4 linked regions of the Homo sapiens genome follow. The protein of the gene in region 1 purifies or fractionates together with the protein of each later gene. This does not show direct contact. Each region holds a gene or a part of one and is shown on either strand. Other genes may lie near its edges.

The links.
Region 2: the proteins of SLC26A4 (region 1) and BCKDHA purify together in Homo sapiens (affinity purification with mass spectrometry; one large-scale study listed by BioGRID and IntAct). This does not show direct contact.
Region 3: the proteins of SLC26A4 (region 1) and ITM2C purify together in Homo sapiens (affinity purification with mass spectrometry; one large-scale study listed by BioGRID and IntAct). This does not show direct contact.
Region 4: the proteins of SLC26A4 (region 1) and ANKRD13A purify together in Homo sapiens (affinity purification with mass spectrometry; one large-scale study listed by BioGRID and IntAct). This does not show direct contact.

Annotation. Positions count from the first base shown.
Region 1 is NC_000007.14:107,674,328-107,677,827, reverse strand, and holds part of SLC26A4 (pendrin), read right to left. Parts: coding exon 3,480-3,500; intron 2,884-3,479; coding exon 2,719-2,883; intron 1-2,718. UniProt on the Homo sapiens protein: Sodium-independent transporter of chloride and iodide. Mediates electroneutral chloride-bicarbonate, chloride-iodide and chloride-formate exchange with 1:1 stoichiometry. Mediates electroneutral iodide-bicarbonate exchange.
Region 2 is NC_000019.10:41,407,818-41,411,317, reverse strand, and holds part of BCKDHA (2-oxoisovalerate dehydrogenase subunit alpha, mitochondrial isoform 1 precursor), read right to left. Parts: intron 682-3,500; coding exon 502-681; intron 396-501; coding exon 309-395; intron 1-308. UniProt on the Homo sapiens protein: Together with BCKDHB forms the heterotetrameric E1 subunit of the mitochondrial branched-chain alpha-ketoacid dehydrogenase (BCKD) complex.
Region 3 is NC_000002.12:230,877,345-230,879,748, reverse strand, and holds the end of ITM2C (integral membrane protein 2C), read right to left. Parts: intron 2,350-2,404; coding exon 2,199-2,349; intron 1,742-2,198; coding exon 1,650-1,741; 3' UTR 501-1,649; downstream 1-500. UniProt on the Homo sapiens protein: Negative regulator of amyloid-beta peptide production. May inhibit the processing of APP by blocking its access to alpha- and beta-secretase.
Region 4 is NC_000012.12:110,030,430-110,033,929, forward strand, and holds part of ANKRD13A (ankyrin repeat domain-containing protein 13A), read left to right. Parts: intron 1-215; coding exon 216-329; intron 330-2,017; exon of another isoform or gene 2,018-2,281; intron 2,282-3,367; coding exon 3,368-3,500. UniProt on the Homo sapiens protein: Ubiquitin-binding protein that specifically recognizes and binds 'Lys-63'-linked ubiquitin. Does not bind 'Lys-48'-linked ubiquitin.

The sequences.
Region 1 (3,500 bases):
CTGGGCAACATAGCAAGACATTGCCTCTACTAAAATTCAACAAAGAAAAAGAAAATTAGCCAGGTGTGGTGGTGCACACCTGTAGTTCCAGCTACTCATGAGGCTGAGGGGGAAGAATCGCTTGACACAGGGAGATGGAGGTCGCAGTGAGCTATGACTGTGCTACTGTACTCCAGCCCAGGCAATGGGGCAAGACCCTGTCTCAAAAAAAAAAAAAAATTCTTTTTTAATAGAAAACTGAGGATTTGACAGGAAAAAACATATCAAGAATGACCCATATAATGCTGAATCAAAAACTTTTGCTAATGTTTCCTAATAGGCTGGGTCCCGAGGAAATGAACGGCGAGCTTCATGAGGTCTATTCATCTGTGATAATAATAATAATAAACTCAATTCTTACTATGTGACAGATATTGTGCTAAGTGCCTTACACGTATTTTCTTTTTCAATCCTCACTGCTCTAAGAGGTAGCTACTATTACTACTCCCATTTTACAATTGAGGACACTGAGGCTTAGGGAAGTTGAGTATAAACATCATGGGTAGTGGGTGGAGAACCAAGATGCCAACTCAAGTCTGTTGAAGTTCAAAGTCCATGATCTTTTTTGTTTGTTTTTGGTTTTTTGTTTGTTGTTGCTGTTATTGTTGTTTGAGACAGGGTCTCACTCCCATCACCCAGGCTGGAAGGCAGTGGCATGATCTCGGCTCACTGCAGCCTCAACTTCCTGAGCTCAGGTGATCCTCTCACCTCAGCCTCCCAAGTAGCTGGGACTACAGGTGCGTGCCACAATGCATGTCTAATTATTTTTGTATTATTAGTAGGGACAAGGTTTTGTCATGTTGCCCAAGCTGATCTTGAACTCATGGGATCAAGTGATCCACCTGTGTCAGTCTCCCAAACTGCTGGGATTACAGGCATGAGCCACCACACCTGGCCTCATGATCTTATTCACTATGTTATTCTGCCTCCTCTGTCTATTCTCACTGCTTAGCATAGTACCTGGCCTGTAGTAAGCACTTGGTAATATTTGTTGAATGGATGGAGTGTAATAGTATGGGATTATGGCACCGTTATAAAATTGAGCAATTATTGACATACTCACCAATTCTTAGATATGTGTACATGGCCTTACATTGTTTTAGAAGCTAATAGGTGGGTCTTTAAAGACTCAAACTCCATTCTTAATGTTGACACGTTATTTTTGTATGGTATCATTCCCCCCAAGCTAGGATGACATCATGTTACTATTATCACCATTTTTCAAGCATCAATAACATGCTTTATGTAGAACACATTTTTAGATCCAAAACCTTTTTCAAATCTAATTAGTGTGATCTACATCCTGCTTTTGCATTTCTTTTGCATGGTGAATCATCTCTGAATCTAATGTTCCTTTTCATTTATAATTGTTGAGACATTTACATTATGCATTTTACGGACTCTTATGGTTAGAAAAAGCTTTTAGAGATACATCTCCAATCATTTCATTTCACCAATAAAAAAGAAAAGATGGCTTGAAATAATCATTTCAAAATAACTCCTTTATTTAGAGTACTTGTTATGTACCAGCCCCTGGGCCAAGTGCTTATCTATTCTTATTTAACAATCCAATGAGGCATATACTATTACTAACCCAATTTTGCAGAGAAGGAAACTGAGGCATGGTGATTGGCTCACATGGCTAGTAGACAGTAGAGCCAGAATATGAATCAAGGTCCATCCAGTTCTAAAACTGAGCTTTCAATTAGCACCCTACATGATGTATCCAGGGTCACTTACCTGTTAGAGACAAAGCTGAGGCTAGAAATCAAGTCTGTTACATTCCAGAGCAGCCTTTACTTCATTAGACCACTTTGTTTTCATTAATGTTTTTAAGTACAATAGTATTTCTGACAGAAGCAACCAAATGTTTTCAATGGCTCCCAAAGTATGCATAGAGAAATGTGGGTGCTCCCAGGCCGGGCGCGGTGGCTCACGCCTGTAATCCCAGCACTTTGGGAGGCCGATGTGGGTGGATCACAAGGTCAGGAGTTCAAGACCAGCCTGGCCCAAATGGTGAAACCCTGTCTCTACTAAATATACAAAAATTAGCTGGGTGTGGTGGCGGGCGCCTGTAATCCCAGCTACTCAGGAGGCTGAGGCAGGAGAATCGCTTGAACCCGGGAGGTGGAGGTTGTGGTGAGCCAATATCATGCCACTGCACTCCAGCCTGGGTGACAGAGTAAGACTCTGTCTCAAAAAAAAAAAAAAAAAGAAAGAAAGAAAGAAATGTGGGTGCTCCCAGACTCAAGTTTTGTTTTGTTTTGATTTTGTTTTTGCTTGAAACAGGTTCTTGCTCTGTCACCCAGGGTGGAGTGCAGTGGGGCGATCACAGCTCACTGCAGCCTCAACCTCCAGGGCTCAGGAGATCTTCCCACCTCAGCCTCCCAAGTAGCTGAGACTACAAGTGTGCACCACCACACCCAGCAAATTTTCGGATTTTTGGATTTTTTCTTTCTTTTTCTTTTCTTTTCTTTCTTTCTTTTTTTTTTTTTTTTTTTTTAAGAGATGAGGTCTCACGTCTCAAACTCCTGGGCTCAAGCAATCTGCCCACCTCGGCCTTCCAAAGTGCTGGGATTACAGGTGTGAGCCACCACGCCTGGCCCAGACTCAGAGAATGAATACAATTGTTTCTGGAATGAACAGTGACCCATCCCTGGAGCAAGAAGCAACACTTACATAGATAATAGAGAGAACTCCATTGTAGTTTTTGGTTGAAACATTGAGGACAATCTTTAGCTGTGAGACCAGCACTTGGAAGGCAGCAGCTGTTGTGAAGCCACCAACCAAAGGATCTGCCAAGTACCTCACTATGAATCCAATCTGCAAGCCACCAAATATCAACTACGATAAGGAAAAGGAAAGAAAAATTAAATGTTTGCCTGAGATAGAAACCTACTCTCTGGAAATATTACATCAAGCTTAATACCAATGAAAACACTAGTAGCCTGCCTATAGCACAAAAATACTGGTAGAAAAAAATATGAATTTCTTAATACCCTATCACTCCCCTTCCTCCACCACTCTAAAATTTGAAAACTAAGTGTAATAAAAACCTTGAAGTATTTCTATACATGTACTTAGAAAAGCAAAAACCCAGAGCTTATTTATGTGGCTTTCGGTCCTGTGTCTCCGCTCACCAGAACACTTTTTCTCCTTTATGGATTCCCGTATATTTCCCTTCTCTCATCCTCAATTGAATCACACATGTTCTTCTGTGCTTTTTTCTGTCTCTGACTTTGATGATAAGTGAGCCTTAATAAGTGGGGTCTTGCTTACTATTTTAGCACCTGACCTAAAACAACGTAATTTAGAAAATAATTTTGGGTTCCAGGAAATTACTTTGTTTTGTTTTTAGTAGAATCTTTAAGTCTATATGCTTTAAAGTTAATTTCAAATAAAAATTACATCCATCTATATTTTACTTGTAAGTTCATTACCTGTATAATTCCAACCAGCAG
Region 2 (3,500 bases), on another chromosome or scaffold:
CCTGTTTCTCAGGACTGTGCATTTCCAAGAGGAAGGGCTGTCAGGCCTTCTCCCTGCCCTCTCCCCACACAGGCGAGCCCCCAGCCAGGCACACAGTAGGTGTTTTTTAGTGATCAGGTCCATCCTTCTGCCCTAAGGCAGGACTGCTCTCACACTTCTCCTCCAGAGTCCCAAGAGAACCCTCAGAACTCTATGGAACCCCCCCAAAAAAGAATCTGTCCTCCTTGGGAGCCATTCCTTTGGCCCAAACACAGGTAGGGGACCTCAGGTAATTCCAGCCCCCCGCCCCTAGTCCTGTCCCCACGCACCTGCCGCTGAGACTCATAGAGGATGCGGTCCATGGTGTTAAGCAGTGTCATGCTCTTGTAGAGCTTCAGCACCTTCTCCTTCGGCAGCTGCGGGTGGAGGCACAGATAGACGTGGGGCAGTTGGGACCAGAGAGGAGACAGGCAAGGGGCCTGGGCGTGGGGGGCACGGGAAGTGGGGGAGGCCGCCTCTCACGTGGGGGTCCTCGCTGGGGTTGATGATCTGGCCTTGCCGGTCCATGACGCGGTAGATGGGGATTCCAGAGATGACGTTGGGCTGGATGAATTCCAACTTATCTATAAACTCCGCCGAGGCCCCTGGGAACTGGGGCTTGTCATCCAGAGATGAAAACTGCTGCTGCTGCCTGGGGGGGTGCTGGGGAAGAGAGCAGAGGAGACCACCTGCATCAGAAGCAGCACCCAGGTTTCCGCTGGCTCAGCCCCGGCGGCAGGCAGGCGGCATGGTGGTTGAGCATGTGGCCCCAGTGAACTCTGGGGCCTGACTCACAGGGTCTGAGCCCCAACTCCAGCACTTTCTCACTGCGACACTTTGGATAACTGACTACAACTTCTGTGTCTCAGTTTCCCCATCTGAAAAACTGGGATGAAAACAGTTAACACCTATCCCATAGGACTGTTGTGAGGTTAAATGACTCAATCAAGTGGCTGGCAAGTCAATAACTGGTAGCTATTACTATTCTCATTACCATAGGCCCAAACTCTTCATCCTGGCATTCGAGGCCTCCCCATTCTGGCCACAGATGCCCCCTCCTCTCTCTCTCCCACTGTGACCACAGACACACATGCCCACTGCAGGATGCCCTCTAGGCATACAGACCAGCTCTCTTCTGATCCCTATACCATACACCAGCGAAGCTACTCAGGACAGAGCTTAAGTCTTTGAGCTCTTAAGAGTCAGACTGCCTAGGTTCAATTCCCTTACTGCCTTTAGGAGGCAGAGGCAGGCGAATCTCACTTGAGGTCAGGAGTTCGAGATCAATGTGGCCAACATGGCGAAACCCTGTACCCACTAAAAATAGAAAAATTAGCCGGATGTGGTGGCACATGCCTGTAGTCCCAGCTACTCAGGAGGCTGAGGCAAGAGAATCACTTGAACCCGGGAGGTGGGGGTTGCAGTGAGCCGAGATTGCGCCATAGCACTCTAGCCTGGTGACAGTGAGACTCCATCTCAAAAAAAAAAAAAAAAAAAAAAATCCCTTAGAGGGTGATATGGCAAAGTAACTTCCCCTCTCCACGTGTCCCCTTCCTTGTCTATAAAAATGGAGAACCCCTCATGGAAATGAGAGGCTTAAACAAGATCACATGAATAAAATGTTCAGCAAAGCATCTGTAAGCCACCTAACAAATGCTCAAAACAATCTTAGCAATTCTCATTTCTCCCTCTCATCTCTGCTTGCTTTACAAGAAGGTCTCTTTCCCTATCGCCTGGCAAACTGCTACATACGCTTCAGTGTCCACTCTACTCTGGTCCCAGCTCCCTCTGCGAGCCCAGACTGACTCATTCAACAAATATTTGAGCACCTGACATGTTCCAAGCCCTGTGCTGGGTTCTGGGGACCTAAGACAGGCAAGATATCTGTCCTTGCTGCCTAGCAGGGAGGGCAGACACTAAACAAGTAACAATGATGGTGGTTCATATTATCCTATAGCAGAAGAAAGCGAGGGTAAGGCTTCCCTGGGGAAGTGATGTTAGAGCTGAAACCTGAGGGATAACCAGGAGGCAGGGAAAGCACATTCTCGGCAAGGTGTATAGAACATGCAAAAGACAAAAAGTGGCCAGGCACAGTGGCTTATGCCTGTAATCCCAACACTTCGGGAGGCTGAGACCAGCCTGGCCAACATGGTGAAACCCCATGTCTACCAAAAATACAAAAATTAGCTGGGCGTGGTTGCGCACACCTGTAATCCCAGCTACTCAAGAGGCTGAGGCAGGAGAATCACTTGAATCCGGGAAGCGGAGGTTGCAATAAGCCCAGATTGCACCAACACATCCCAGCCTGGGCAACAGAGACCCTGCCACACACACAAAAAAAGACAAAAGGCAAGGAATAGTGTGTCCTTCATGGAAGACAGAAGGAGCTCAGGGCCTGGCAAGGTGGCTCATATCTGTAATCCCAACACTTTGGGCTCAAGGATTACTTGAGCCCAGGTGAGCCCAGGAGTTCAAGACCAGCCTGAGATCACATCTCTACAAAAAATTTTAAAAATTACTCAAGCATGGTAACATACACCTATAGTCCCAGCTACTTGGAAGGCTGAGGTGGGAGAATCGCTTGACCCCAGGAGGTGGAGGCTGCAGTAAGCCATGATCACACCACTGCACTCCAGCCTGGGCAACAGAGCAACATGCTGTCTCAAACAAAAAAAAAAGCTCAGAGGGGCTGGAGGAGTCCTGCAAGGACATCACACCTCCTCAGGTCAGATGAGGAATGGCTGAGAAAGCCCAGGAGACCTGTGAGAAGCCTATAAATGCTCAAAGGGATATGAACCCACTGGGACTCTTAGCTCTGGAGCTAGGCAGCCTAGAACCAGCCGAGGCGTTGCAATAGCTCCCCCTTATGAAGCACCTGCTGTAAGCCAGCTGAGCCTGGCAGGCACAAGCCTACTAACTCCTCGGGGAATTTGTGAGGTTGATTATCTGCCATTGCCCTTGAGTAGATGAGGAAACCGAGGCCTGGGGAGGTAAAATAACCTGCACCAAACCACAAATTTAAAAAAAAAAAAAAAAAGGTGGGGATGCTGGGCAGTGGCTTACGCCTGTAATCCTAGCACTTTGGAAGGCCAAGGCAGGAGGATCACATGAGCTCAGGAGTTTGAGACCAGCCTGGGCAACAGTGAGAAACCCTGTCTCCACAAAAAAATACAAACATTAGAAAGGCATGGTGACACATGCCTGTGGTCCCAGCTACTTGGGAGGCTGAGGCAGGAGGACTGCTTGAACCTGGAAGGATGAGGCTGTAGTGAGCTGAGACTGTGCCACTGCACTCCAGCCTGGGGGACAAAGTGAGACCCTGTCTCAAAAAAAAAAAAAAAAAAAAAAATTACATCAGAACTGGGCTTCCAACGCTGAGATTCAGGCTCCTAGACATCCATGCTCCTCACCCCAACTGCCCCTGCAGCCTGATTTTCAAACATCTGCAACTTTTCTTCCCACTACTCCCGGGATTCCTCCGA
Region 3 (2,404 bases), on another chromosome or scaffold:
TGGGGTCCACCTAGACATGGCTCTGGCCAGCTCTCCTGCCGCTTCCAGAATTCTCTGGAGAATGTGACCCTGTGATTATCACACCAAACCTCACTTCAGATCCTCCAGGAATGGTTACAAATTGTCCAGACGTGGTGGAGAATAGGACACCGCCCTTGTGCTTAAGGACATGCAATAATGATGTCATCTGCCAGGTAGAACATTACAGGGTGGTTTACAGGCACTTAAAGCAGCACGACCTTGGGCGAGTCGGTAAGCTCTCCCAGCCCTGTTCCCCTCCTCACCCGGAAAGTGTGAACTCTACCTGGCTCAGATCCAGGGTGCTACGAAGGGGATATCCTACACTCCTTGGCTGAATCCAGGATGCCCAGCTCTTTAGGGGCCAGATGTCAAGGTCTGCAGGCTTCTCCCTGCCTGCTGCTCCCGAGGTCCAGCTCCTCGACCCTGCCCGGAGCACCCCTCCTACACCCATCTCCCCTCCAGCCACACTCAAGTCAAGGTCAGAAGTAAAAGATTTTTATTGTTCTATAGACACTTCTGAAAAGAGATCTAATTGAGAAAATATACAAAGCATTTAAGAGTTTCATCCCCAGAGACTGACTGAAGGCGTTACAGCCCTCCTCTCCAAGGCTCAGGGCTGAGAACGGTTAGCATATCGAATGATCAGTAAAAACATGCAAAAGTGAGAAGGAAAGGGAAAAAGGTGCATTCCCCTAAGCTGAGGGGGATGGAATTTCAGAACAGAGGAGGCAGGGTGGACAAGTACCAGGTGGCTCTCCCTTTCCCTCTGTGTTATCTTTCAAAACAGTTCCAAGCTTGGAGAAAGCAATGAGCTCCACCTACTCAGCAGAACCCACGGCTCGTCCCCCGTGGACGTGACTGAGCAGTGACCTTGCCTGCCCCGTTCCTCAGCCGCCCATCCCACTGCCTTGACTGAGGGGACCCTGCTTGTGCTCCTGGGGGGCAGGACTGGGGGTCCTAGCTCCTTGCTTCTTTGGTTCCACTCAGAGAACAGTTGTGCTTGACGGACTCATCCCCACTCCCCAAACTCCAAGCTCCTGCTGGTGGGCTGAAGGCACTGACAGAGTCCCTGGGACACCCCCAGGTAGCCACCTTCTCTTGTGCTCTGGTGGGTCCCTCCCTGGGCACATCGTCCCATCCTCAGCTCAAGCCCCAGGTCTAGGAATAGGGACAGTGAAGAAAGTGTACCCTCCAAGAAAAAGCTTCTGAGGACTTTTCTAATTGTGCAGATACTTCTGAAGCCCATGCCGCCCCGCCCCCACAGCCCCATCCCCTTGCCCAGGGCCTCACATGCCCGGCTCCCCCAACCGGTCCTTCCCCTTGGGCTGCCGGTGCAGCTGTGGGCCCAGGCTTTGGCAGGCCCAGCTTCAAGACAGTGGGACACAGAAAACACTTTGCAGCATCGCCTCTCCCTCCGCCACACCCAGGTCAGCAGAGATGGGCCCCCCACCGAGAGATCACAGCTCTGGTACAGGGAGGTGGGCAGGGTTGGAGAGGAATGGAGAGACATGTCACCTCTATAGAAACGCGTCCAAAGTACAAGCTAAGCAGGGGGAAGGAGGAGGGCCAGAGAGCAGCCGGAAAGAAGAAAAGAGGAACACGGCAGGGGGTTCTGGGGGAGGAGGGCCTCACACCACCCCGCAGATGAGCGTCTCCACCACGAAGGTGTTCTCGAAGTGGCGGATGGCATTGCAGTTCTTGGCCCCACGCTTGTTGATCCCTGGGAGGAAAAAGAAAAACCCCAGTGAGCCCTGCATCCTGGCTGAGTCACAAAGACCACCAGCCTCAGCCTGAGCCACAGGAGGGCCAGGAAGTGACACCATTCACCCAGATTCACCCAAAGAGCACAGTGAGAAATGGGGAGAGCTCGAAAGCTGGAGTCAGCCTGCCCATGTCTGCCACCTCCCTGCTGTGTGACCTCCAGGGTGTTAACCTCTCTGCACCTGTTTCCTCATCTTTAAAATGGGCAGCAAAAATAATAATGAGGATGAGAATGACTTACACTCTTAAGAGGTCATAAAGAGCACACAGCATTGCCCGGCACACGGAAGTGCTCTGCTAATGCTAGCTGTTATTGCTGCTGCTATCTGAGCTCTCTGACAGCTGGGCTAGGCGTGAAGATAACTGTGGTCTGGGGCACGGGACAGGGGCTACTGTGGGTGAAGCCAGCCACTCACGCCTCCGCGTTGCCCGGCGCCGGAGCCGGTAGGTGTCTTTCCCGTTGCACAGGTGGTAGATGAAGGACCCCAGGGCCTCCTTGTCACTGACATGCTCCGTGACCACCATCTCCTCCTGGATGATGTACGTCTGCGGCAGGTAGGTCCCCCTCTGCAAAACAAGGTGGCCGCCACAGTGAGTCGGCCCCTCAGGCTTTCGTCCAACC
Region 4 (3,500 bases), on another chromosome or scaffold:
GTGCTGGGATTACAGGTGTAAGCCACCGCGCCTGACCGAAAATACACAACTCTCAATCTCAGTTTTCCCGTCTGTGTATTGGGAAGGGTTGTTATGAGGCTTAAATAAAATTATACTTATCAAAGTACTTGGCATAGTAAGCACTTAGTAAATGATAACTATTATTGTTATTCTCAGTAAAGTTTACTTATAAAAGTTTTTATTTTGTTTGTTAGAAATTCCCTTGTTTCATGTCTTAAATGCACGGATTACATTTGGAAATGTTAATGGCTGTAGCACTGCCGAAGAATCTGTATCTCAAAATGTGGAAGGGACCCAGGCTGATTCAGGTAAAAAAATAAATAAATACAAAGTTTAGTTTTGTTATTTAAAAAAAAATTTATGGCCGGACGTGGTGGCTTATGCCTGTAATCCCAGCACTTTGGGAGGCCGAGGTGGGTGGATCACCTGAGGTCGGGAGTTTGAGACCAGCCTGACCAACATGGAGAAACCCTGTCTCTACTAATAATACAAAAATTAGCCGGGTGTGGTGGCGCATGCCTGTAATCCCAGCTACTCGAGAGGCTGAGGCAGGAGAATCGCTTGAACTGGGGGAGAGGCGGGGGGATGGAGGTTGCTGTGAGCCGAGATTGTACCATTGCACTCCAGCCTGGGCAACAAGAGCAAAACTACATCTCAAAAAAAAAAAATTATAATTCAGTCATCATATTCATAATTCACTCTGAAGCTGGAATATCTGAGGGAGTAGATGTCTGTGTTGGATGAAAGAAAATTTCAGATTTAGTTTAGATTAAGCAAAAAAAAACTTGTAGAATATATATGATCCTAGTTATATTAAAAAGAAAGGATGTTCTTAAAAATCAGCTTTATTGAGGTGTAATGTACATACAATAAAATGCTCTCATTTTAAGTGTGATGGTTCAGTGCATTTTTTTTTTTTTTCTCAGAGTCTCACTCTGTCACCTAGGCTGGCATGCAGTGGCACAATCTCTGCTCACTGCAGCCTCTGCCTCCCAGGCTCAAGCGATTTTCTTGCCTAGTCTCCCAAGTAGCTGGGAATACAGGTGCGTGCCACCATGCCTGGCTGATTTTTGTATTTTTATTAGAGACTGGGTTTCACCATGTTGGCTAGGCTGGTCTGGAACTCCTGACCTCAAGTGATCCACCCAGCTCGGCCTCCCAAAGTGCTAGTGTGAGCCACCATACCCAGCCACATTTTGACAAATGTATGCATCTGTGTAACCACCACCATAGTCAAGGTAGACAGCATTTCCATATGCCCCCAAATTTCCTTACACTCCTTTGCCATCAATACAATTCATGATTTTAGATGCAATTGTAAATGGACTTATTTTCTTAATTTCATTTCCAGTTACTAGTATATAGAAATATAATTGAGTTTTGTATTTTGACCTTGAATCGTTTTTAAAAATTTTTTATCTTTTTTTTTTCTTACACAATTGCATGGCCAGGATTGACCTTGTTTATCTTGTAACATGGCTGAATTTACTTGTCTTACACTTTTTTGTAGATTTCTTAGAATTTCTTACATATATGGTCATGTTGTCTATTAATAAAGAAAATTTTACTTTTTCCTTTCTAATCTTTAAGCTTTTCATTTCTTTTTCTTGACTTACTGGACTGGCTAGGACATCTAGTACAATGTTGAGTAAGAGTGGTAGGAATGGCTGTCCTTGTCTTGTTCCTGGTTCTAGGGGAGGAAGGATTGTTGTGCCATTAGGTATGATGTTAGCTGTGTAGGTTTTTTATAAATGTCCCTTATTAGTTGGAGGACATTATTCTCTTATATTTCTAGTTTGCTGAGAGTTATTACCATTTTTAAGTATTGATTTTTGTGAGATGTGTTTTCTGCAACTATCATGATGGTCCTATGTTTCTCCCCTGTAGTCTACCAGTAGGAGGAATTAAAAGATAGCATTTTAATGTATATAAATTAAGACTTCAAATAAAAACAATTGAACTCGACAATAATATACACCTTTACATTCCCATGTAGCAACAAAGTTGGGTGAGATGTGTTCATGAGGTTGTGCAGCTAAGGAACACTCGTGCACTCTTGGCTGGAAGAGGAGATTGGTATAGTTCCTTGAATAAAACATTCGGCATTACTGTATAAACTGAAGATGTGGATGACCTAGCAATTCCTAGATGTGTACCCTAAAGAAAGTTATGCACATGAGCATCTGGAGACCCCAGTACTGGGCAGCAGCATCCATTCATAACAGCAGAAACCTGGAAACGACCCAAATGTCCCGAGATGGTAGAATGCGCTATTGTGCTCTATTAATACAACAGAATAACATATAGTATTGAAAATAAAAATTTATAGCTATGTGCGTCAAAACTGTTGAATTTCAAAAGCATAATGTTGAATGAAGAAAATCCAATTTGAAGAATAAATTCCGCATGATTCCATTTATGTCGAGTTCACAAACAGGCTAATACAAACTATTAGGATGATATACATGTGGCAAGCTCCAGAGAAGAGCTAGGCAGTGTAAACAACTATTCTGAATTATGTATTTACCTCTGGAGAGGAAGAAGGGAATATTGTTAACAAGGGATGTGCCCGCAGTATGGTATTGATAGTGTTTTTTTCTTTTTCTTTTTTTTTTTTTTTTTTGAGACAGTCTTACTCTGTCACCCAGGCTGGAGTGCAGTGGTGCGATCTTGGCTCACTGCAAGCTCCGCCTCCCGGGTTCATGCCATTCTCCTGCCTCAGCCTCCCGAGTAGCTGGGACTACAGGTGCCCGCCACCACGCCCGGCTAATTTTTTTTTTTTTTTGTATTTTTAGTAGAGACGGGGTTTCACCATGTTAGCCAAGATGGTCTCGATCTCCTGACCTTGTGATCTGCCTGCCTCAGCCTCCCAAAGTGCTGGGACTACAGGCGTGAGCCACCGCGCCCGGCAGTTATTGATAGTGTTCTGTGTCTTAGGCTAGGTGAAGGGCACACAGGCATTTGTTTAATTATTATCATTTTTAAGTGTTCAGATATTTTATATATACTTTTATATATTTACCATATATCTTCCTGCAAAAGGAAGAAACACATTGGTGTGACTGTGCGTATATGTTTAGGGGGAGAAATCTGCGCTTTTCATTTTATAGTCTTGTGTATTTTTTTATGACTGTGTTCGTTGTTTCCACTAAAATCAAGGAAAAAGAAAAAAGCTGTATTCTGTCACTTTTTTCTGTCATGCTTCCTCAGAATCTCTCATATAATAGTAAGCCTTGATTGTTATAATTTTGAGCCTTTCTTTTTTTTCTAATGTACAACATTTTTGCAAAAAGTTGGAGTGGAAATGTAATGAACTCAGACACTGGACGGTTGCCTTTTGTTTCAGCTTCCCACATCACAAACTTTGAGGTTGATCAATCTGTGTTTGAAATTCCCGAATCTTACTATGTTCAAGACAATGGCAGAAATGTGCATTTGCAAGATGAAGATTACGAGATAATGCAGTTTGCCATCCAGCA